Homo sapiens: one gene and its partner. The protein of the gene in region 2 binds, or shares a complex with, the protein of the main gene of each other region. Each region holds a gene or a part of one and is shown on either strand. Other genes may lie near its edges. The genes, in order: ICOS and ICOSLG.

Region 1 (12,217 bases), on a different chromosome or scaffold from region 2:
TGCTTCCAAAGAAAAGAAAAAAGACAGCAGTTTTGAAATGGAATGCATTGCATAGTTTGAAGTTATCATTTTATATCCTAAAAATACATCAATTACTGGGAAGAGGTTATTAAAATCTTAAAATCTTACTCTGAACAGCCACTCAAAGAAGACCAATGTTACTATTTTCATGATTTTTCTGAAAGAGGGTAACCAGTCTTAATCCTGAGTACAAAAATTTGGGATGAGTCCAAACATAATACAATATTTCAAAAATATCAATGATGATTAAAGAGTCATGAAAATTTAAAATAATAATAACTATATTTTTGGCATTATGTACTTTTTTTTTTTTTTTTTTTTTGAGATGGAGTCTCGCTCTGTCACCCAGGCTGGAGTGCAGTGGCACGATCTCGGCTCACTGCAAGCTCCGCCTCCCGGGTTCATGCCATTCTCCTGCTTCAGCCTCCCAAGTAGCTGGGACTACAGGCGCCCACCATCACACCCGGCTAATTTTTTGTATTTTTAGTAGAGACGGGGTTTCACCGTGTTAGCCAGGATGATCTCGATCTCCTGACCTCGTGATCCGCCTGCCTTGGCCTCCCAAAGTGTTGGGATTGCAGGCGTGAGCCACCGCGCCCGGCCTATGTAATAGTTTTTAAGAGCTTTCATATACATTACCTTTTGGTCCTCACAAGGATCCTCTGTGATTACAAATGAGTGAACTTTCGCTCAGAGAGGTTAGGCATCTTTCTCAAGACCACACAGTTGGTAAGTGACAGAGTCAGGTCTAAAACAAAGGTCTTTGAATTTTATGTGCATATATATATATATGTATGTATGTACTGCCAATTGAGTGTCATCCTTTAAAGCAGAAGTTAAAAATGAATAGTCCATGGGCCAAACTGGATCTTTAGATATGTTTTGTTTGCTTCCTATAATGTTGGCTCATGGTGTATTTTAAACTTTTTGAATAAGCTCCAAAATTTAAAAATGGGGATGTTTCCCACAAAGACTAGAATTTCATGTGTCTTTGGAAAAAATCAGAAGAGATGGTTACACTGGATTCATATTCCCTAGCGGCAATGTACAGCTGAAGCTGTGTGTGTGTGTGTGTGTGTGTGTGTGTGTATGTGTGTGATTCTAGCTGGTTATAAACTGTAGAGAAGCAACGTGGCATGGTTTGGCTGTGCCCCACGCAAATCTCATCTTGAACTGTAATCTCCTTAATCCCATGGGTCATAGGAGGGACCAAGTGGGAGATAATTGAATCGTGGGGGCAGTTTCCCTTATGCTGTTCTCACGATAGTGAGTGAATTCTCATGAGATCTGATGGTCTTATAAGCCCACCTCATGGATATGAGACATGGAATCAAAGGAGATCATTTCAGAACTTTAAGGTTTAGTGACTGCCCTATTGGATTTCGGACTTGCATGGGGCCTGTAGCCCCTTCATTTTGGCCAATTTCTCCCATTTGGAATGCGTGTATTTACCCAATGCATGTACCTCCTGTATTCGTCTGTTCTCACATTGCTACTAAAGACATTCCTGAGACTGCGTAATTTATAAAGGAAAGAGGTTTAATGGACTCACAGTTCCACATGGCTGGGAAGGCCTCACAATCGTGGCGGAAGGCAAAGGAGAAGTGAAGGCATGTCTTACATGGTGGCAGGAGGGCTTGTGCAGGGGAACTCCTATTTATAAAACCATCAGATCTCATGAGACTTATTCACTACCATGAGAACAGTATGGGGGAAACCACCCCCACAATTCAGTTATCTCCACCTGGCCCTGCCCTTGACACATGGGAATTATTACAATTCAAGGTGAGATTTGGGTGGGTACACAGCCAAACCATACCACTCCCATTGTATGTAGGAAGTAAGTAACTTGCTTTTGACTTTACAGGCTCATAGGTGGAAGGGACTTGCCTTGTTTCAGATGCGACTTTGGACTTGGACTTTTGGGTTAATGCTGGAATGAGCTAAGACTTTGGGGGACTGTTGGGAAGACATGATGGTGTTTTGAAATGTAAGGACATGAGATTTGGGAGGGGCCAGGGGCAGGTTTGGCTGTATGGTTTGGCTGTATCCCCACCCAAATCTCATCTTGAATTGTAATCCCCAGAATCCCCATGTGTCATGGGAAAGACGTGATGGGAGGTAATTGAATCATGAGGGTGGTTTCCCCCACGTTGTTCTCATGATAGTGAGTGAGTTCTCATGAGATCTGATGGTTTTATAAGCATCTGGCATTTCCCTTGCTGGCACTCATTCTCTCTGCTGCTGCCCTATGAAGAGGTGCCTTCTGCCATGAGTGTAAGTTTCCTTAGACCTCCCAAGCCATGCGGAACTGTGTGTCAAGTAAATGTCTTATCTTTGTAAATTACTCAGTCTCAGGTATTTCTTCATAGCAGTGTGAGAACAGATGAATACAGAACTGTAGAATGGTAACTCAGGAGCCAAAGACAGAACTAAGGGAGCCTGAACTCTGCAGAGGCTGGAAGGAATGGGATCCAGAGAGGTGCCTTACTTATGTTTTGAGGAATATACTATCATTGGAATGAAGGCCAACATGAATAAGTGGCAGTATATTTGTTAAAAATATCAATCATACCATTTGGCAGTCACATCTCATGCTGATTTTTTTCACCCCTCATGGAAATATATAATCAGTTTTCTGGGCTTTATGGATTAATTAATAACTTTAAATGAGAAAATATTTGGCTGTCAAAATGGAATATACTTTTGTTTTATGATTAGAGATGGGCAAGTGATGAGAGATGAATCAGGATGATGAATTATATATTTATTCAATTAATTTCAATGTGAAATACAAACATGTTTTGATAATTTTCTGCTCTCACATTATGATTCAGAGTGAAAAATTGTCATTGGTGAGCATTCCCAAGGTCATATGGTTCCTCCAAAAGTCAAGGATTCTTCAAACACTTGTTCATTCAATAAATAGTTGTGGAGCATTGCAAACATACTTGCAAAGAAGGCATCTTTAGGCTGAGGCGGGCAGATCACAAGGTCAAGAGATCGAGACTATCCTGGCCAACATGGTGAAACCCCGTCTCTACTAAAAATACAGAAATTAGCTGGGCATGATGGCATGCACCTGTAGCCCCAGCTACTCGGGAGGCTGAGGCAGGAGAATCGCTTGAACTCGGGAGGTGGAGGTTGCAGCGAGCTGAGAGGTTGCCACCGCAGTCCAGCGTGGTGACAGAGTGAGACTCCGTCTCAAACAAACAGTAACAAAAAAACCCGAAGACATCTTCAGTTCTTGTTCTGATGTTTCTCACAGTTTAGTAGAAGCTGTTGGAAAGCAAACAGGCCATTACAGTGGTATAATTGTTACAATTGTTACAGGTAGCTAGACAAGCATGAGCTGGGCAGGAGAGGGCTCTTCCCCCACTCATAGGAATGCTGGGTGATGGTTTGGCAATTATCACATTGCCTCTCTAAAAGTGATAAATTGGCAGCTGGTGCCAGGGAGAGGTCATTTCCTGATGGTCCACACCTGTTGCACTAAAGTGTTAATTGAATGCGGGTACCAGGTAGAAGCAACTTCCTGGGCCTGCGCATTAAGAGACAAAATGGCCTCTGGAGGCACACCACCAGAAAAGGGAAGAAAGCCTCAGATGAGCACACGTACAGTTTCCTAAACACACTGCATGTGCTCACCTCCTAAGGGTAAGGAGGGCACTGCACATGCGGGCAGCCCACCCTAAGGGAAGAATCCTGTGAAAGAGGCCAGCCTATAAAGTCCTAAAATCAAGGTTAAACACCACACTTGACCTTGGGCCTCTTCCAAGCACATGCTCCTTTTTTCTGTTCTAAAGCTTTTTAAAATAAACTTCTATTCCTGCTCTGAAACTTGCCTCGGTCTGTATTTCTGCCTTATGCTTCTCAGTCAAATTCTTTGTTCTGAAGAGGCAAGAAATGAGGTTGCTGCAGACCTGTACAGATTTTCTGCTGGTAACTAAGATACCTTCCACCGATAACATAATGATTTCTAGGATGGGGGACACAGAGGAGCATTGGGAGGTTGCAGAAAAGCCACTAAATGGACACTAGTTATGGGGGTGGTTGGGAGTGAATGACATTGGTTTGATGTCTTTGATGAATCGATGGGTATGGAAGCAAAGGCCTGAAGAATGGTGGAATATCTGCCAAAGAAGGTAGGCTAGAGTGGTGAGGAGGGGAAGCACAGACAAAATGATGGCTCCTGGCAGTAGAAGGAAGAGTTAGTTTGGGGAATTTGGAGAACTTCATGTCATTCAACGTGATGGAAACATTTGGTACAGAAGGAAGAAAGAACAAATGTGGCAAGAGATGAGGCCGAACTGGGGAAGGAGTTGCCCTTCATAAGGAATCTTGAAGGGGTGTGGGCCTTACCTAAGAGAGGAAGCCAGTGGAGGATCCTGGGTGGGGCGGGGACACAGATGAATTCTATTTACATTTTACAAAGATTACTCTGGTTGTAGCATGAAGACAGACCAAAATGGGACAAGGGTGGGAATAGAAATGACAGAGGCCTGATCTAAGTCAGTGACCTTGGCAAGCGAGGAGGAAAAAATACTTGAGAGACAGTTAGGAAGTAGAGTAATTGGGGTTTATCGGTGAATCAGCAGGAAAAGGGAGAAGGCTGGTTGGTGGTACCACTCAACAGTATAGGCAAGGTAGGAGTTGAAGCAATTGTGATTAGGAAGGACCTCTCACTTTTGATGCTTGTCCCTTTCAGAATGGCAAACCAAGCTTAGGTGAAGCCTAGATATTTGGGGGTTACTTTCTAACCCTATTGCTTGGACTCAACCATGCTGGTGTCTGAGCTCCTCTACTCAGACAAATGTTGCTTTCAGTAAGTTGCAAGCAAAGCAAAAGAAAGACATTCACCTACGGCCCTTCAGAAAAGCAAGCATGCTGCATGATGAACTCTGGTGCCCAGGAGGCAAGAAATAAAAAACACTTTTAATGTAACCAACTTTCCATGCCCCACCCTCACCCCAGGCGTCTGCATACACAAATCAAAACCATCTTAAGTCATGGAATGAAAAAAAATTAAAAGCAAACTAAAAGCACTTCCTGTGAGGTGAATGGAAATTTTTGCCCAGTTAATTTTCCAGGCACGTGAAAGCAGTTCTGAATATTTTAAACCACAAGTACTTGTATTCTTGACCAAGATTTTTGAGAAGGCGAGGCATGGGAAGGATCATTGAAACAGGACTTTGACATAAAACATTGTTTACATAGAAGTGAGCTCTTCTCCACTATCGGATCAATTTACCACCCAGTGTCTGACAAACTGAGAAGCGAGAGGGTTGGGAAAAAGCAAAGAGATACATATCAAACAAAACCACACATATCCAGTTGAACTAAAGCTGAATTTAACCATAACTTGTGCAACTTTTCTCCCCTTGAGGTAGAAACATTACACCTCCAATTGACCAGGACATCTTTTTTTGCATTCAAATTATCTTGGAATTTCCTCTAGGACCTAAGTATCCTTCCACCATGAAAATAGGAGACCAAAAAAAGTAATGCTTCCAGTAATTTCTAGCCAAATAAATGAGGATAAGTGTGTGAGTGTGGTGGGGTAGTTAAGAGTTTGGAATCCAGAGTTTCACTGTCTGGATTTGAACAGGCTCCGTTGCTCATCAGCTCTGTGACTCCGGGCAAATGACTGAATCTCTCTAACTCTCAGTTTTCTCATCTATGAAATGAGAATAAGTAACAGACTCTCCCTCGCTGAGTTGTTTGAGAACGGGATCAGACAATGCACGTGGAGCCCCGTGTCTGGCACACACTATGTCCTCATTGCATATTTATTATTAGGTTTCTGCTTTGTATTTTTCTCTGTGCAACAGCCCTGAGCTCTAGAACTTATGACAGCTTTTCTCAAGTGAAGTTAAAGTTCCCCATACTCAGTTCCAGAGCTAGGCCTCACCTAGGTTGGAAGAAGTCAATTGTTCTCCACTGCCTGCCTGTGTGCTGGGAAAGGACTCTAGCACAGTGCCGGTGGGGCTGGAAGCCTTTCCTCATGATGCTACGGGGAGTACAGTGAAAAGGGAGGAGATTGGGGTAGCAAGGTCCCAGGGGTCCTGGCAGCCCAGGCTCTACTTCTCAGGCTAGCTCAGTCCCTCAAACAGCTTCCTTCACACCCACTGCTGAGACCCAGGAGCCCTACAGAAGGTAGCTAGGGGAAGCTTCAGCAGCTAGGGGGATCCCTGCAGGATCAGCCTCCTCCTTACCTTGCAGACCCCTTGGCTGTGGTCTGGCATTCCTAGTGGCTGGCCTAAAGCCCCAAACCTGGAATCTGTTTCAGAGCCTGGACCTTTTGGACTCACACCTTGGTTTCCCTGGCCAGCTGATTTCAGCTTCTCATCTAAATGTCATTTCTGCAGGCTAAGGGAAGTCCAGCCTGGATCTAGCATCTTGGAAGCGCGTTCAGACTTCTGGATGGAGGGATCAGCAGGCCTTGGTATTGGTGGTTCTACCTGCTTCGGTTAAGAGTGAGGACTCTGGAGCCAGACTCTCTAAATCATAGCACTGACACTTACTATATGACTTGGGCCAGGTTCGTTACCTGTCTGTGCCTCAGTTTTCCTCATCTGTAAAATGGGAGATTAGTGGTCACCATTGGGATGATTAAGAAGATTAAATGAGTTAATGTATGTATAAACTATAGTTATAATGTAAATATATATACAAACAGTAACCATTTACATGCATATAAAACATAATATAAATGTAATATTAGCTATATTCATATATAAAAATAGGTATATTTTATATATAAAATATATTACATTTAATTTTTTACATTTTGCATTAAGATATATTATTTCATATAAAACATTTAAGTACATATACATATAATTATCTATGTAATTATTATTGTTATTGTTGTTATTGTCTACTTTACCTCCCTGCAGGGATGGGGAGACCACGGCAGGCTTTTAAACATTCTTGGTCTCACTGAGCCGTAGGTGAGGAATCCCTGGTTCCTACAGACTCTGCTGTAATATGAGGAGCAGGGTTTAAGTTAGTTTAAAACTGACCCCATCATTTGAAACATTGCAATCTACAATGAATGCCACATAAATATCATTTCTCAGATTCCTATGATGCTCTTCTTTCAGATCTTTTCACTTCAATTTCTATAATAATTTTGTTTGTTTCTTGTCCTATTTCAAAGGCTTTCTTATCTCTGGAGCACCTAGCATAAGATAGAAATGTGTCAAAATATATGTTTTATTCATCATGTGAGTATTTTTAGGTCCTGTTAACCCCCATAACTATTGATTCAGAGAAGTAGGGTGGTTCTGAAAAATACAGGCATAATCTCTTTAACTTGTTTTATAGGAACCAGAATAAGGGTAATGTTTTCCTCTGTCTTCAAAATCATCAATAATCCATGCATTGTTTAACTCATGTCATAAGCAATAATGCCTTTCATATAGCCATTGGCATCAAAGAAGAAACACCCCCTTGATTTGATGGTAAGCGTGACACTACATAAACTCCCAGAAAACCCACTTCCTTTCCAGCAAATAGAAAACAACCGAGAGCCTGAATTCACTGTCAGCTTTGAACACTGAACGCGAGGACTGTTAACTGTTTCTGGCAAACATGAAGTCAGGCCTCTGGTATTTCTTTCTCTTCTGCTTGCGCATTAAAGTTTTAACAGGTAAGTGGTGTATTGAATATTTCTTATTAAGTTATAATTCAAGTAAACATTAAGAAAAAGCAAAGGTAGAAAAATTACGCACCCAAAAGACAGTGGTTTTGGTTTTTGAAAGTAGGAATAGTTTCAGGATATGGCCAAGGGCACCATGTCACTCATGTCACTGTGGATGGCATTGAGTTTGCATTGCTGCCTTTGATACTGTGTCTTGAGATGAAAAACATGTTTCATCAGACCATTAAATTTTTAAATTACCTGCTTGGAGTTACCTGTCAGTGGATAAACTAGCAGAGTGGCTTACTGTTCTTAGAGAAAGATGAAAGGCAAAATGACTTGTGTCAACAGAATGAAAATTAAATAGCTCTGGCATTTGGACTGGGAATTCTTTCTGTGGTAGAAAATAAAATGGGAAGTCTTTGAAAAGAAGGATTTTGATTTTAATCTTACCTGGATGATCTGTTATCTGAAATGTCCAGGGCACCATAGAGTTTTTATTGACACTAAGTATCAGAGTTCACCCTAAAAAGCCAAGGAGGAAAGGATAATGTAAAAATACTTCCTAGCCCCTGTAGACCTTACAAAAAAGATCATTCTGGAGTCCCTGATTCCTTCTCTTGAATGGCATATAGCAGACTCTATATGGACAATTTAAATAATGCTACATACAATGTAAGTTAATACACGTGTTTCTGCTGCTTTTTACTGTATATAATTTGTACTACTTTTGTTTTCTCTTTCACACTGAGCCCTATTCTTGAGGTTGAAAAAAGGAAAGTTAAGTAATATTAAATAACTTAAATAATCAAATAAACTAAAAGTGAAGGCAGAACTTTTAGTAGGTATGATCCTATCTAGGGATACATTTTTTCAGTGGCAAAAAAATAGACCTTACTGTTCTTACAAAAAATGAAAAAAAAATGAAATCAAATTGATCAAATGTTTCATCTTGTGCTGGCTCAAAGTGAGTTAAGTGCAGTTAAGAGGATTGAGGAATGTAGAATGAGCACAAGGACAGTTTTGGGCTACTTGCTGGTTTATGCCTTTTCTAGAATCTCATGAAGTCCTTTAGCGGCATGAATGACATGAGCAGCTTTGGAATTTATATTCATTCTTCATTCATCCATTTACTCATGTAGCATTGAGCACCTGCCTGGTAGCAGGTACTGTGCCAGATGGTGTATGTACAAGGATGAGCAAAACCAGGTCAACCCCTGTTCTTTGGAAGGTAACTGCATGGTAGAGAGAGATATATTAATCAAATAATCCCATTGATTAATGATAATTACAGGCAAAACTCAATTATATGAGGGAATGTAACAAGGAGCTTGACTAGACTGGGTGGGTGTGGAGGTGTAGCTGAGGAGCAGGGTTCATTGAAGTCTTTCCTGTGCAAGTGGCACTTGAGCGGAGATTTCAAGGACAAGGTAGCAATCAATGGGGAGAACGGTATGAAGGTAGGGAAGAACGTTCCATACCATGGAAGGAACAAGTGCAAAGAGCCTGTGGCAGGAAGGAATGAGGTAAGGTTAGGGAACTAGAAGAAAGCAGACAGATGTGCCTGAGCACAAAGAGGGAAGAGGCTGAGCTTGGTCCAAGATGACCAACTGGTCCAAGTTGGTCCAAGGTGAGGCTGGAAAGGAAAGTAGAGGCCAGACCATTCAGACCATATAGTCTATGTTCCAGATTTTGGATATTCTTCCAAGAACGTTGGTACCATTCGTGGAAGGGTTTGTTTGTATTGATAAAAATCATTCAACTAGGCCAAACCAATTTGGGCAGTTCTGGTTGTGGTATTATGCTCAGGAGAATTAAAGTAGCATCGGTGTCAATTCTGTGGAAGGTGAGATCCAGCCTTAGGTAGGATTGTTTTAAGTTTCCAGATTAAGCTGACGAATAATTTGTATTCTGGAACAATATTCATCGTAGATTCTAAATGAATACAACCAATGTTCACTCTCATTATAAAGAAAGCCATGAGATGTGGCATGCTGTTTGGCATGTGGCAAACCTGAGGCACGAGTGGCTAAATGGTAACAATAAATCTGCTAGCAATGATCCTATTTAAAATATCTCCACAATGCATGTATCCAGAAACTGCCATGTAAAAGCTCTAAAGAAAAAGAGCCAAACTCAAGTAAACTAAGTACTTGCTTGTCCTCTGTTGTATTTTCAATCCTCCCAATTTACATAGGCTTTCTCATGCCATGAAGATGTAGGCATTCTTACCTTTAGTCAGTGTTTGAAGAATTTCCAACCAGGAAAGGTTAAGTGATTTGTTACACAGTAGTTGGTGGCAGAACCAAAGTTAGAACTCTAATGTGACTCCAACATCTACATTCTTTCTAAACTGTGTTGAAGTAGTGGAGGTGTAACATAAATCTAAAGGAACGTAAATCTCAATGATTCTGATCACCTTTGTTATTTGGTTGTGAATTAAGAAGGATGGGAATCTTGCTGATTTCTAGTCTTTGATGGATCTCAATGTAGAATTTAACAAAGTCTTGTTTTTTTTTAATGAACTTGGAGCAATAGGACACTTTTAATTATAAAAATATCTACGAAAAATGTGAATGTCTAACTACATTTTGAAGACCCTCTTTGTAGACCTTATAGGCAACAGGGACCATATGAGTGATGGGACAAATTCTGGTTTTAGAAAGACTACTTTAAAAGCAGTGTGGATAATACACCAGATTGGGAAGGGCTGATGGCAGAGGGTGTCTAATAAACGTGCATGTATTATGATGTGTTCTGTGAGGAAGCTGGGAGGATAGCCCTCAAGGCCACTTTGAGCCTTCCTTTGTCACTGAGGCATTCCATTAGTGACTCCTGAATTCCACTTGGGAAAAGAGCCCCTCAGTGTCTCCAGCGTCTGAGAGAAGTCTGTGAAGATGACTGACCTTGGAGCCCCTCTTAGCCTCTCCACGACTGAGTAAATGTCATCTCCTGACAGCACCCCCTTCCAGAGTGTTCTTGTTAGATTTAACAAAAATCCCAGTTGTCAATTTTTTCTTTTGATAGATGAATTCAGGCCATTCCCAGTCAGCATAAGCCTCTACTTGATTTTATTTCTATGTTTATTTACTACTTATTTTTCTTTGTTGTATCCTCTTTTTCTCTTTTATTTTTGTTGGTGTGATGAAATTTCTTTTGACTCTCCTCTTTGCCTCCGGTTAATTTGGAAGGTCGACTACAGTTCTTAATTTACTAAGTAATTGACATGTTCAAAGAATCTTAATTGAATGTCTACTTGTTTATCATTGTATGAAAATAATGAAAATGCCTTTGTCTGATGTGCCTAGTCCCCATCCCCTGCACTGATATGAGAACTTAAGAATGTTCTTCCTTTCCCACTCTCACACTTCCCCCAGACAGTGCACCCTGCTCCATACGTGGGTTTTGTGGAAATAATTTAAAACTTACAGTTGCAGATCATTGCTAGGTTTCCTCTTACAGTATTTCTCTTCTGTTTCAAGAATCCTTTCTTAACACTTACATCACATACGTTCAATGACAACATCATTCTGGACATCTGCTCCTGTCTTGTGATCTCTGTTCTAATCTAATGATCAGAAGACTTCTCTTATTTTCGTTAAATACCCCCAACTCTCTGAATTCCAGTACAGGTAAGGGTGTCTTCCTTTTACCTTGATGAGTGACTGATATCTTTCCTGGGAATAGGAGTCCTGGATGGCAGCCTTTCTTCTTAGTGGTTGCAGATATTCCTCCACTGTCTGCTGGCTTCTAGGGTTGTGGGTGAAGAGTTTGATGGTAGTCTAACTCTCATTCCTTTGTAAAAAAAAAAAAAACTCTAGAATTTCATAATCTTGAAAGCTATTTACTTCAGTATTGGAATTCAGGAATTCCTCCAGGATATGTGTAACTCTCTCCCTCTGTTTCTCTTTCTGTGTGTTTCTATTAATTTTTTTTTTGAGGCGGAGTCTCACTCTGTCGCCCAGGCTGGAGTGCAGTGGCGCAATCTCGGCTTACTGCAACCTCCACCTCCCGGGTTGAAGCGATTCTCCTGCCTCAGCCTCCCAAGTAGGTGAGACTACAGGCACCCGCCACCACGCCTGGCTAATTTTTTTGTATTTTTCGTAGAGACGGGGTTTCACCGTGTTAGCCAGGATGGTCTCAATTTCCTGACCTCGTGATCCGCCCACCTCCGCCTCCGCCTCCGCCTCCCAAAGTGCTGGGATTACAGGCGTGAGCCACCGCGCCCCGCTGTTCTATTAATTTATTATTATTTTTTTTAAGACTGGGTGAAAGTTTTCAATCTCTAGACTCAAGCTTTATTCTTCATTTCAGTCATTTTTTTCCTAGTATTTGTTTAATCATACCTTATGCTGTTTTTCCCCACTCTTTCTAGAAATGTCTCTTATTCTTATGTAAGATCTTGAGTCCCTTATTTTTTCATCATTTGTGAACAAAATGGCTTTCACAACTTGCTGTTGCTTGTTAACCACAACTCCTTCAGATGAAATGGATATTTCAGTTTTAAGTTACTAGTAGCATATTCCCATTTCTTGGTAGAAACAAAATGCA
Region 2 (12,193 bases):
CACCCTATTCTGGACACTTTGCATAAACAGAGTCCCACAGGCTTGTCCTCAGGTGTCTGGCTCTGTCACTCGCATAATGGCCTTGAGGTTCTCCACGCCGCAGCGTGCGTCAGGACAGCGGCCTCCTTCCTTTTTCAGGCTAATTCTCCCCTGCACGCATGGATCACGTTTGGTGCATCCGTCCACCCACGAGGAACACTCGGGTGGTTCCTACCTTCTGGCTGCCATGAACATTCACGGACAGGCATTTGTTTGAGTCCCTGTTCTGAATCCTCTGGCCTATATCGCTAGGAGAGAACTGCTGGGTCCTGCAGTGCTTCCACGCTGAGCTTTTCGAGGAACTGCCACAACGTTCCCCATGGCAGCTGCGCCCTTCTGCTTTTCCGCCACGATGCACAAAGCTAACAATGCCTCTGGTCTCTGTGTGCAGTGCCCTTCAGAGAGCCGTCCTCACCGGCAAACAAGCAGCGGCATCCCCCTGGGAGCTTGTTCTGAATGCCCGGCGCGTCTCCAAACACACTTGGAGAAACCACCTGGACGGTGCTCAACCTTGAACCTCTGAAGCTTTTAGACACTGTCCCGATGCCAGGTGCCAGCCCAGAGCTTCAGGTGCAATGGGTCTGGGCATGGGGGCTTTCATAGGCTGCCCAGATGACCCCACTGTGTGGCCGGGGTTGAGACGACAGCCCTGGGAGAAGCTTCTGCTGCCACCTGGGCTGCTCTGCGGGGAGTATGCTGGCTGGAAGGCAGTTATCAGAGGCTGCTTTGGGAGCAGCCCCTCATCCCGCTGCATGCAGCTCAGACACTCTGAATGTTGAGTCAGAAGGGCTGAGCCCTGATTTCAAGAAGGAGAAGGTCCGGCTCTGCCGGGGATCCTGGCGGCCAGGGTGGACTTCGAGGGTATGACCTGTGCAGGCTTCTGGGGTTGAGCTCAGAAAGGCCGGCAGGAGGTGCAATGCTTGTGGTCACTGTCTGGAATTCTTAATGCTCCCGAAACAAGGAGCCCTGCATTCTTGCTTTGCCCAGGGCCACACGGTGAGTCCTGCTGGCAGCCCCTTTCCTGCAGCCAGCAGGGCCCCAGGACCCCTCCTCGATCATCTCCTGCCTCCATCTTCTGCCTCTCATCCTGACACAGGAGATGGGGACACAAATGGGGAGGGCCTGTGTCCTCTACAAAGGAGTCCCCGTAGAGGAACCCCTTCCACAGGGCACCCCTTCCACAGGGAGGGGCTGGGCCAGCAGCCGTGCGCAGTGGGATTCCCGTGTCTGGGGGCTTCAGTCTTCTCAGGGGACACACGCCCAAGAGGCAGGGAGCTTGGGTGGGGGCTGCACAGCTGTGGGCTTCTGTTCTGGGCTGCTGCTGCCTAGTGCTGCGGCTTCTGAAGTGTTACCCAGCCTCAGAGTTCAGCCCTCATCTGTAAAGTAGGTTTAAGAAAACCGACTCCAGGTGAAGAAAATGGAGCAATATGCACTGGGCACGGCACCCATTCCTGTTCCCAGAGACCGCGGTGGTTCTCACTGTGCGGCATGTGCCTCTCACCTCCCCTCCCTTCCAACCACCTTTCGGGTGCTGAGCCGCGTCGAAGGGACTTTTTGTCTCCTACCTCAGAGGCTCTCCCAAGCCAGCCCTGGCCCCACTGTCGGGCACAGCTCAGCACGCAGGCGCCGGGACCTTACCTGTCTGGCTGCCGACAGTCAGGTTCTGCTGCAGAAGCACGTTCTCTATGCAGCAGCCAATGTTCACGCTGGGGGTCCGTGCGATCCTCAGCACGCTGACCACGTCATACAAGCCCCGCATGTTCAAGAAGACGGTGTCATTCTGCAGAGCCTGGTCCAGCAGGCTGTTGTCCGTCTTATTGATCCAGTACACGTTGGGCCTGGGGTAGCCGTTTATGGATGTACACGTGAAGGTGAGCTCATCCTGGGAGGGGCTGTGGGGGGCGCTGACGACGGGCACGCTGAAGTTTGCTGCAGGGGAGGGAAACAGATTGTGAGAGATGCCAGACCCTGCTGGTCAAGAAACAGAGGGTACACGGTGCCAAGGCTGGGTCAGAGGGGAGGCGGCCCATTGTGCCCCGACATGGGTGACAGGCCAGGACCAGGGCTGTGGTCCGAGCAGCAGGCTCCGCCCTGTCCTGCCCAAGAGTCATCCCCCAAGCCAGTCCCAGTAGCCAGGGACCGCTGAGCCTGTCGGGCAGTGACTGGCACCCACAGACCCCCCACTCCACAGCCGTCGGCTGTGCCGGGACCCCCTCATTTGGATCTGGTCATTCTCACTGCTGACACAGGGGCTCACAGTCCATCTGAAATGGACACAGCTGTTCTCCCCAATGAACTGCCCAGAGCTCCTTGGTTGCCTCTTATTTTTCTCTTAAATTTTGTTCTCATTTAGTGCTTTATAGAGTTCCCTTCAAATTTCACTTTTAAAACTCTAGTTTGGATGTGGTGGCTCACGCCTGTAATCACAGCACTTTGGGAGGGTGAGGCAGGAGGATCGCTTGTGTCCAGGAGTTTGAGACCAGCCTGGGCAACATAGTGAGACCCCATTTCTACAAATAATCAAAATTAGCCAGGCGAGGTGGCATGTGCCTGTAGTCCCAGATACTCAGGAGGCTGAAGCAGGAGAATTGCTTGAGCTCAGGAGGTCAAGGCTGCAGCGTGATCACGCTACTGCACTCCAGCCTGGGCAACAGTGAGACCCTGTCTCAAAAAACAAACTAATTGGCCAGGCGCGGTGGCTCACACCTGTAATCCCAGCACTTTGGGAGGCTGAGGCGGGCGGATCACGAGGCCAGGAATTTGAGACCAGCCTGGCCAACATGGTGAAACCCTGTCTCTACTAAAAATACAAAAATTAGCTGGGTGTGGTGGCACGCGCCTGTAGTCCCAGCTACTCGGGAGGCTGTGGAGAATTGCTTGAACCCAGGAGGCGGGGGTTGCGGTGAGCCAAGATTGTGCCACTGCACTGCAGCCTGGGTGACAGAGCGAGACTCCGTCTCAAAAAACAAAAACAAAAACAAAAGCTAACTAACTCAAGAGGCAAAGACAGCAAGGGTAGGAGCTCTTCCGGGAAACCAAGCAGCCGCAGGTCATGCACTAAGGATTTTTCAGCTGTTTAGTTTCCCTCGAAGTTAGACAGAAGCCTGATAACACAGATGAGAATTTTCTTCACTGGAAGAAACAGTGAATGAGCCAGGGAGGGGGTTTCATGAACACTTGTCCACGATGTGAGGCTGGGATGGACCTAGCTCTCCCCGCCTCGATGGTCCTACCTGCCACATGCAGTGTAACCTCAACGCTCAAAACCTCCTGGAATCCCAGGGATTGGCTCAACACCAGGCAGTGAAACTTCTGCTCGTCCTGGGGGGTGACGTTGAACAAGCGCAGGGAGAAGTCGCCCCGCAGCATGCCGGCCGGTGACATCAGGGCTCGGTTCCGGTAGCGGCTGTCCACGTTTTCCAAGGAGCTGTTCTGTGGGATGTGGTAGGTCACCACGGTTTTCGACTCACTGGTTTGCCAATATACGTAAACATCATTTAAATCAAAACGGCTTCCTTCAGGGCAAGCGCAGCTGAGCTCCACGTCGCTGCCTACCATCGCTCTGACTTCCTTCTCCTGAGTATCTGCAATGGCCCAAAAGGTGCAAAATCTGTTTTCGGAGGCTGATGCCCAGGCCATGAAGCTACTCTATGGGGCAGACTTTGGGTTTCAAGCCTCAAACACCAACGGTGGCTCAGAATTTATTAACAAGGCACATGTAGGAATGCAGTCAAACTTGAAAAACGCAGACATTTCATGGTGAGGTCCATGTCAGTCTTTGGCTTCGATGACACACTCCTGTTATGTAAGGGGCTGCCATGGGGAGGAGCGGCTGGATGGGGCCTGGCCGCTCAGTGTTATTTTTGTTACTCAGCACTACTTTTACTACTTCTCGGGAGTCTATAATTAATGCACAATAAAAAGTTCTTTAAGGGAAAGGCATTTAAGGGAAAAGAATTTCTCAGCAATTACATTATATTGCTGCTCACTTGCAGTAGGAAAGCTGTCACAAATGTGGCAGACACAGGGTAGCTTTACTGTTTGTGCAGCTACGTAAATGCCTGTGGGAAAATCTTTTTTTTTGAGATGGAGTCTTGCTCCGTCACCCAGGCTGGGGTGCAATGGCGTGATCTCAGCTCACTGCAACCCCCGACTCTGGGGTTCACGCCATTCTCCTGCCTCACCCTCCCAAGTAGCTGGGATTACAGGTGCCCGCCACCATGCCCAGCTAATTTTTTGTATTTTTAGTAGAGATCGGGCTTCACTATGTTGGCCAGCCTGGTCTCGAACTCCTGACCTCAGGTGATCCACCCGCCTTGGCCTCCCAAAGTCCTGGGATTACAGGAGTGAGCCACTGCACCTGGCACCTGCAGGAAAATCTGTGTGTGTCCCCTGCCCCCAAAGCCCTCTGGGCTGGAAGGCTTGGCAAGGTTTCAGGTTTGTGCTGCGGTGCTTCGTCCTTATTCCTGGCTCTTCCAGAGGCTGGTGGCTCTTAGGGCTCAGCAGGGCTGCTGCCTGGGACAGGGAGACCAGGGGACCCAGGAAGCCCTGGCTCAGAGGAACTGCATTCTGCCCGCAACAAAGACGGAGTCAAACAAGAACTCCGGAGTTTGCAGAAGTGTTTCCCTTTAAGGAAACGCTTCTATCCTGTGCAGCAACCTAGGTTTAGGGTCCAACTGTCTCCAAAGGACCACTTGAGAAGCAAGAAGGAGCCTGGTGAGGCTGCTCCCAGTGCCCTGCGGCCAGCAGTCCACACAGCCGGAGAGCCCATCTCTGAGCTGGGCGCCCCATGGCAAAGCACCCCCTGAACTTACCAGCTCGAAGGCTGCTGAAGAGCAGGAAGAGCAGTCCAGGACTGGAAAAAACAACCAGAAAGGCAGGTGAGGCGGGGCCACCAGGGAGTTACCTGTATCTTCCAAACAGGAACAGGCTGGTTCCCATGAGCAGGAGGTAGTTAAGCCCATCACAGAAATGTGAAGGCAGAGCCAGGAGCCTGCCTGCCTCTGTTCTCCATGGGAATTCGGGGTCCGGGGCCAGGACCACCACCCTCCTGCCCAGCACAGCAAGTCCGAGGGGCTGGCAGCCTCTCACCACTCTCTAGCTCTCGCGGTAACAAATCCCCAGAAACACAGTGATGCTGGCGTGAGGATGAAGGGGAGCGAGGGACGCCAGTGAGGCTGGTCTAGCCTTCCTGGGGACAGATGCCAAGAAGTTGTAGGAAATCAGAAAAAAAAAAAAAAAAAAAAGCTTTCAGGGCACATATAGTAGGAGTGTCACTTAAAATGCTGGGGAGACGGAGAACATCAGGCGTGCCCGTGACAGGGTCAGGTGAGTGACGGGACAGCCCTGTGCGGAACGCGGATCATTTTGAAACCAAACCTGAGCTCCTCCTGTTTCAGATCCTGCTGCAGCTGGTGCCCCTGCCTCGGGCAGCAAATTCCCCTCGTGACTCCAATGCCCCTGCCATCTTGGGTCTGGGAGCCTTTGCACCCTGCACGCCACAGGCTCGCCACCTCCTCCCGCCAGCCCCCAGGATGCCTTCCCCACGTGGGGGCCCTTAGTGGCCGGGACCACTTTGGTAGCAGTGCTTACCCCAGCCCCCCAAACCATCAGTTTCTGGGGCCAGCTCCCCATGAAGCAAGAGCCCCAGGAGCAGGGACATCTCCTTCTCTGATGTCCCTGCACCTCCAAGGTCTGGGAGACGCTCATCCCTCTTCTCTGTGGCCTCTGCCTGGGAAAGCTTGGGGGCTTTGTAAGTCAAAGGTTGGTCTTGTGGGAACCTCCCAGTGGGCTGTCCCTGAGCCCTGGAGCCACAGAAACCCCTGCCCCACCCACGATGGCTGTCATCTGAGTCTGCATGGAGGTGTGTCTGTGCCAAGTGAGCACACATGCACCAAGGCGGCCCCTGGCCACCAGGGGCTCTTGAAGTCTGCAGGCGGCCCTTCCTCTCTCTCCCACTCCCCCTGTTGGGGCCACCATTCTGGCTGGCAAGATGGCTGTGATGGCCTCCAGCAGGCCCCCTGCCTCCACCCTTAGCCCCTTCAAGCATTTCCCCAGAGCCACCATCTAAACGACAGCTGTGAGAACTCCTCTGTGCCCCCATTTGTCTCCCACAGTGCCCATATTCATCACCAGCCCACAAGGCCCCTCCTGTCTATGGAGGCCTCCTCAGGACATCTGGGGGCTTCCTGGGCCAGGGTGGGGGGTGCCTGCTCCAGGCTGTTTCTGGCTTGTCCCCTCCCTGGGTGCTGCCTAAGCAGCGGCCTCTGTGTCCTTTCCTTGGACCCTCAGCACCCCTGCATCTAACCTACCCCCACCCCGAGCTTGCCTCAAGACCCAGCATGGACAGGGCCGCCTACCTGAAGGTGTGGGTGGCGGAGGGCTAAGACATTTGGGAGGGCTATGACATTCCGGGACCTTTAAATTCTTTCTCTCTAGGGCAGGATCATAACTGCATACACTTCTAATGGGGAGGGGACCTGGGGAGTGTGACTCCGGTGTGGCCCAGCTCTGAGCTGTGCGGGAGGCATCCCTGGGGTCAGGGGCCTCACAGGTTCACCCAGGGGAGCACAGGCTGCGGACCCTACAACGTGGGTTGCGAAGAGTATATTTTGGATATTTTCGCAAAAATCCAGGAGGAAGCTGTCACTCCTGGTTCAGGCAGCCCCGCCTTCCCCAGTGTGGATCGGCTGCCGGGCTGCGGGGAATCCCACGTGTGTGGGGGAGGGCGTGTCCGCAGACCGTGGGCACCAGCTGGCCTTGGAGAGCGCTCGGCCGGTCACCTCCCTCCTTCTCCCTTCTTCTAGGAAATCAGCAGTGCCAGGGAGTGGAAGGGGCAGCGCCCGTGCCCCGGCGTGCAGGGTGCGCCCGCCTTCCCTCCCTCCTTCCAGCGTTCGCGGTCCTCCTTCCCTGGCAGGGACCCCGCCCCCGAGCCCGCCCCCGCACGGCTGTGCGTCCTGCCATGGGTCCCGGTGCCAGGCCCCGCCGCCCACTGCCGTCCACGCCCCGCCGGCCGCCCCGGCGCCTCCGCCGCCCGCTCCTCGGACCCGCACTGCCAGCCCGGCACCTCCAGGCGAGCCCCGCAGGCCCCGCGTCCGAGCCGAGCTGGGGACGCGCGGGCCGAGCCACCCCGCCCCTGACCGCGGCGCCTCCGCTCCTTCCCCGGCTCACCTGCCCAGCCGCATGGTGCGGGCGGAGACCTCGGGCCGCGGAGACCTCGGGGCGCGGAGACCTCGGGGCGCGGAGAACTTGGGCCGCGGGAGACCTCGGAGAGGAGCAACCTCGGGGCGCGGGAGATCGGCTCTAACTGCGCTCCCGCCGCGCCCGAGGCTCTGAGCGCCCAGCGCGCGGTGTGCTGGAGGCAGCCGTGTCCCCGCCCCGTCCCCGCCCCGCCCCCGGCCTGGCTCCTCTGGCGACCGAGACCGCCCCGGGACAGGAGGCGGGGCGCTGCGCGGCGGCTCCGGAAAGTTCGGCTCTGCCCAGGCGTGTGCCCGTCGGCCGGAGGCGGGACAGAGGCAGGTCGGCCTGTCCGCCTGGACGCGGACCTGGGCGCCGTAGGTGCCCTGGGAAGCGCAGGGGTGGGGGGTACCCGGCAGGAAGGTGGCCAGGGGTGCTGCGGGTGCCGGCGCAGCGAGGGAGGGCACCGTGGGAGGCAAGGGCCGTTCCCCGCGCCGCGCACAATGCGCCGGTCCTGCGGCCCTCCCCGAGCAGGAGTCCGGGGACCCAGGCCCCAAGGCTGGGAGAGCGCCAGGCCCCTGGCCGGCTGCGCTCCGATGATCTCCAGGACTTAAGGCGAGTGAGCTCAGCGACTGCTGAGGAATGAATGACTGAATGAACGCATGCATGAATGGAAGGAGGGAGGGAAAGTGGGCGGGCTCTACCCTCTGGGCCAGCCCCAGCCCGCCCCCACCTAGCCTTGCTCCCCTAGCCTTCTAGGGGTGTGAAGGGCGCTGGCGCAGCCTCTTTGCTTAACACTGGCTCTGAGGATCCCCCGCCGAGAAACCGAGGCAGGCTTGCGGCTCTGGGCTCGTCAGCCTTGGCAGTGGCGTCTGGCCTGGAGTCTGGGGCAGCTGGTTTGGGAAAGGCTGCACCACGCAACCGAGGGTGGGACCCAGAGTCCCTGCTCCTTCCCCACCGCACCCAGCCCACCCCGCCCTCCCTCCCTGATCCCTGCAAGCCAGGTGAGGCCCAGGGGGGACGTGACTCCCTTTCTGCAGAGGCACCTCCGGAAGGGCCTGGGTGAGGCTGCTAGACAGGGCAGCGGGGCACCCTCCTCCCGGAGCCCCCGCCTCTGGGCTGAGGCTCGGATCCCCACCGCCTCCTGCGCATGGAGGAGGCGAGAAGCGCAGGGAGACGGGGGCCCCAGACGGCACCCCGCAGGCTGCCATTCCTTCAACCAAGATGTAGAGAACGCCGTGGACAAAAGCTTTAAAAAAATTCTGAAACCTCTGCCCGTGGGAAGTCAACATTTTTGCGGAGCAGAGAGCCCAGGCACAAAATAAGAAGGCGGAAGAGACGGGCTGGGGGGATAGGGGGGACGGCGGCGGGGAAGGGCAGGGAGGGCGGCGGCGAAGGCGCAGGAAGCCCTGAAGCCGGGCGGCTTCCCCCTCCCAGGCCACGCTGAGAGACGGGGGTTGGGGGGATTTAAAATCGCGCGCCTGGCAGGGGCGGGGCGGGGGCCACCTGCCCTCCGGCGGGAAGAGCTGGGCAGGGCCCGCGGAGTGCAGGGCGGAGGCACTGGCGGTCCGCACCCGGGTGAGGTGAGGCGCGTAACCGCATCTGAGCCGGACTCTTTAGGACGAGTCCCGTCCCTGGAGTCAGAAAACCCGGTCCAGCGCCAGCGTGGACGTGCGCTTCCCGGGACACGCCCAGGGACGCCGGCTAGGACCGGCGAGGCTGGAGGGGTGGCGATGTTGGGGGCTGAGGTTCCTCGCCCCGGGGCGGGCGGCTGCTGGTAAGGGACCGCATGGCCCCGCAGGTGAGGAGGGCGCAGGTGAGGAGGGCGCAGGTGAGCCGGGCGGGCTGCGGGCAGCGCCACCTCCTCCCGGAGGCCCTCCCTGATTGACCGGCCGGGAACCGCGCGCCTCTGGGCCTGCGGCTGAGGTCCGGGGCTGCGCCGCGCCGATGAGCTGACGCCGGGCCGAGCGCTCCACCCCCAGGGCCGGGCGCACCTGAATCCCCTCCACCCGCGGGACTGCGGAGAGGGGGACGGCCCCCGGATACCGCGTGGGGGCTTTGGGAGGATGGGGAATGGGTCCTGGGGGAGCAGAGCCTCCCAAATTAAGGCCTCCCAAGAGCGCGGCCGGTCATCCGCGGCGGCGAAGGGAAGGTGCCCTGTCGGTGCGTCCGGACCCCGCAGCCCCCCAGTGCCGCCCGGGGGCGGTGGGAGAGGGGCCGACACCGCAGGGCCCGCCGTGCTGTGGCCGAGGGGGCAGGTCCAGGCTCTGCTTCCCGGGCAGACGCCGGAGACCCCAGCAAGCCAAGTGCTGCGGGCAGCCCCCCCCCCGCCCCCCCGAGAGAGGGGACGCCGCGTGGAGGCCACAGCCAGGCAGGGGCAGGAAGGCAGCTGGGCCAGAAGGGGACACTGAGGCAGGCCGAGGCGGCCGCGGGGGAGGGTGCCAGGACCAGCCCAGGAACCTCGGAGACCACGGTAAGCGGTGGCTGGTTCAGATCCCAACTCCGGAGCTGTGTGACCCCAGAAAGTTCCTTAGCCCCTTGGTGCCTGCATCCCCTGACGTGTGACATATACATGAATGGGGCTGTTGTAAGTGAACGCACACAGCACACCGGCACATGTGTCACAACACTTAGATGGGTTTAGATGAAGAAACAGGGAAACCTTTGGGAAGTTTCCTGTAGTCAAAGGAAGGTTTTCGTTTTCCCCCTCAACCGTGACTGTTTCTTGGGCCGGCAGGATAGGCTTTTGTTCTAGGGGTGTGGAGAGAGGGCCCCTTGGCAGCGTCCAGGGCCAACTGGGAACCAAGCAGGAATCGTATTTGTGCAGCCTGGAGTTCGAGGCTCTGGGTGCGAGTCGTAGTGCTTAAGCAGGAAGCAGCTGCCTGATGCCCCTAGCCCCAGGCCGCCCTGCTCTGCCGTTTCGAGGGCGTGGGGGTCTTCTGATCTCCACCTTGATGCACCTCCAGGCCCGGGTCCTTTTGGGGTCTGGCACAGCAACCTGCGTTTGACAGCATGGGCGTCCGCTGATGCTGAGAGCTCAACTTCTGGTCCAAGGAAGATCTTTTCTCTTCGGGGAACAGTCATACATTGTTTAACGAAAAGGATACATTCCTTCTGAGAAATGCGTCCTTAGGTGATTTTGTCCTTGTGTGAACACAGAGTGCACACACTGGCCCTGGTGGCACAGCCTGCTACACGCCGAGGCTGTGTGTCACAGCCTGCTGCTCCAGGGCCACGAGCCTACGCGGCAGGTGACTGTGCTGAATAGCGTAGGCAGCTGTGACTCACTGGTATTTGTGTATCTAAAGCCATCTAAACATAGAACAGGTGCAGTAAAAATACCGCGCTGTGATATGGGAGCACTGTGGCATTGCTTGTTGACCGAAGGTTATGTGGTGCATGACTGTATGTTCGTTTCCTGTGGGCGCTGGAACTAACGACCTCACGCTTGCTGGCTCAAAACAACAGCAGTCTATTCTCTCTCAGCCCTGGAGAGCGGAAGCCTGCCTGGTGGAGGCGCTAGGGGAGTATCCTACCTGCCTCTCCCAGCTCTGGGTGGCCCAGGCATCCCTGTGCTTAGCTCCAGCAGCCGCCTCAGTGGCCATGTGGCTTCTCTGTGTGGTCAAGCCTCACTTTGCCCCTCTCTTATGAGGACCTTTGGGATGACACGTAGAACCCACCTGGATGATCCAGGGAGGCCTTCCACCTCAATTTAATCCCGTCAGCAAAGTCCTTCCTTTGCCACATGAGGTAACATTCACAGGATCCGGGAATGGGGACATGGGCATCCTTTGGAGGGTGGTTCAGCTGAGCATGGGATCATGATACAGGTCCTGTGTATAAAATTCAAATACTTGGCAGGTCGGGCACAGTGGCTCACACCTGTAATTCCAACACTTAGGGAGGCCAAGGTGGGAGGATCACTTGAGCCCAGGAGTTTGAGACCAGCCTGGGCAACAGAGCAAGACCCCATCTCTACAAATAATTTTTAAAAATTAGCAGCGCATGGTAGCATGCACCTGTAGTCCCAGCTACTCCAGAGGCTGAGGCTGGAGGATCTCTTGAGCCCAGGAGACGGAGGCTGCAGTGAGCTATGGTTGTGCCACTGCACTCCAGCCTGGGGGACTAGCTAGACCCTGTCTCAAAAAATAAAAATTTAAAATAAAATACATAGAGAATCTCAAGGTGGTGTGGACAGTTCTGAGTGTTGGGGAGAGAACAAAAGAAGGAAAGTGCATTTTGGGTGGCAGAAAGCCCCTAACAGAGCCTTGGGCCCCTGCTTTGAAGCAGCCCTCACAGAAACTGACCACGAGTTATGTTGGGCCCATGACACTGGTTCCCTGGGTGGACACAGCCTGAGCCCAGCCCGCCCTGTCTGGAGCTCTCACCACCCTGCCTGGCCCGTGCCCATGGGCTCACAATGGCTTCAACCCCATTTATGTGTCAGCTCAAGCAGGCCTCCCCAGAGGGCTCATTTGCACTTGGATGCCCTCACCTGTGCTCCCTCTGTGGCTTCAGGAACCCCGGGGTCATTACAGAGCTTGCTAAATTCATCCCTGGACGTGAGATGTGTGTCGTAAGCATCCAGGACTGTCCCAAGATGGGAGAGGCGTTCAGTCATGTTCACTCAAGTGAAGGCTTCTATTCTACTTCCAGATACACCTTTTTAACCTTCAAAGGGTCCAATTTTAACCTTTCTTCCACAAAGCATTTTACGTACCACTAATAGTCCCAGTGCAGACCCCAAAGTTCCCCTGTAAGATTCATTTCCTGTGATTCGAGCACAGCCTGAGGCAGAGCTTTCTGCTGGGTTTATCCTCACTGAGACTCAGACTGCAGAGGGCCAGGAGGAGCCCTGCTTTTTGCAAGCAATACCACCTGGGGTAGGACCCACAAGTGACATCCTTTGTGCGTGGATCTGGCCTTGGCCTCCGCACCGTCTGTTCAGCAAGTCCCTCCTTTGCCTGCCAAGGCTGAG

Evidence for each region.
Region 1: the proteins of ICOSLG (region 2) and ICOS are in contact, whole or in part, in a crystal structure (PDB 6X4G), measured with the Homo sapiens proteins. Residues at the interface, in NP_056074.1 of Homo sapiens: Tyr51, Tyr53, Gln55, Lys60, Val62, Tyr65, Ile67, Gln69, Asn75, Leu114, Leu116, Gln118, Gly121, Phe122; in NP_036224.1 of Homo sapiens: Gln50, Lys52, Thr66, Thr68, Gly70, Ser71, Phe114, Asp115, Pro116, Pro117, Pro118, Phe119, Lys120.

Annotation. Positions count from the first base shown.
Region 1 is NC_000002.12:203,929,198-203,941,414, forward strand, and holds the start of ICOS (inducible T-cell costimulator precursor), read left to right. Parts: upstream 1-7,565; 5' UTR 7,566-7,617; coding exon 7,618-7,675; intron 7,676-7,703; exon of another isoform or gene 7,704-11,237; coding exon of another isoform or gene 11,238-11,298; intron 11,299-11,319; exon of another isoform or gene 11,320-11,561; intron 11,562-12,217. UniProt on the Homo sapiens protein: Stimulatory receptor expressed in activated or antigen-experienced T-cells that plays an important role in the immune response.
Region 2 is NC_000021.9:44,233,595-44,245,787, forward strand, and holds the start of ICOSLG (ICOS ligand isoform a precursor), read right to left. Parts: upstream 7,350-12,193; 5' UTR 7,224-7,349; coding exon 7,210-7,223; intron 5,231-7,209; exon of another isoform or gene 5,004-5,230; coding exon of another isoform or gene 4,946-5,003; exon of another isoform or gene 4,895-4,945; coding exon 4,854-4,894; intron 3,624-4,853; coding exon 3,273-3,623; intron 1,969-3,272; coding exon 1,678-1,968; intron 1-1,677. UniProt on the Homo sapiens protein: Ligand for the T-cell-specific cell surface receptor ICOS. Acts as a costimulatory signal for T-cell proliferation and cytokine secretion. Also induces B-cell proliferation and differentiation into plasma cells.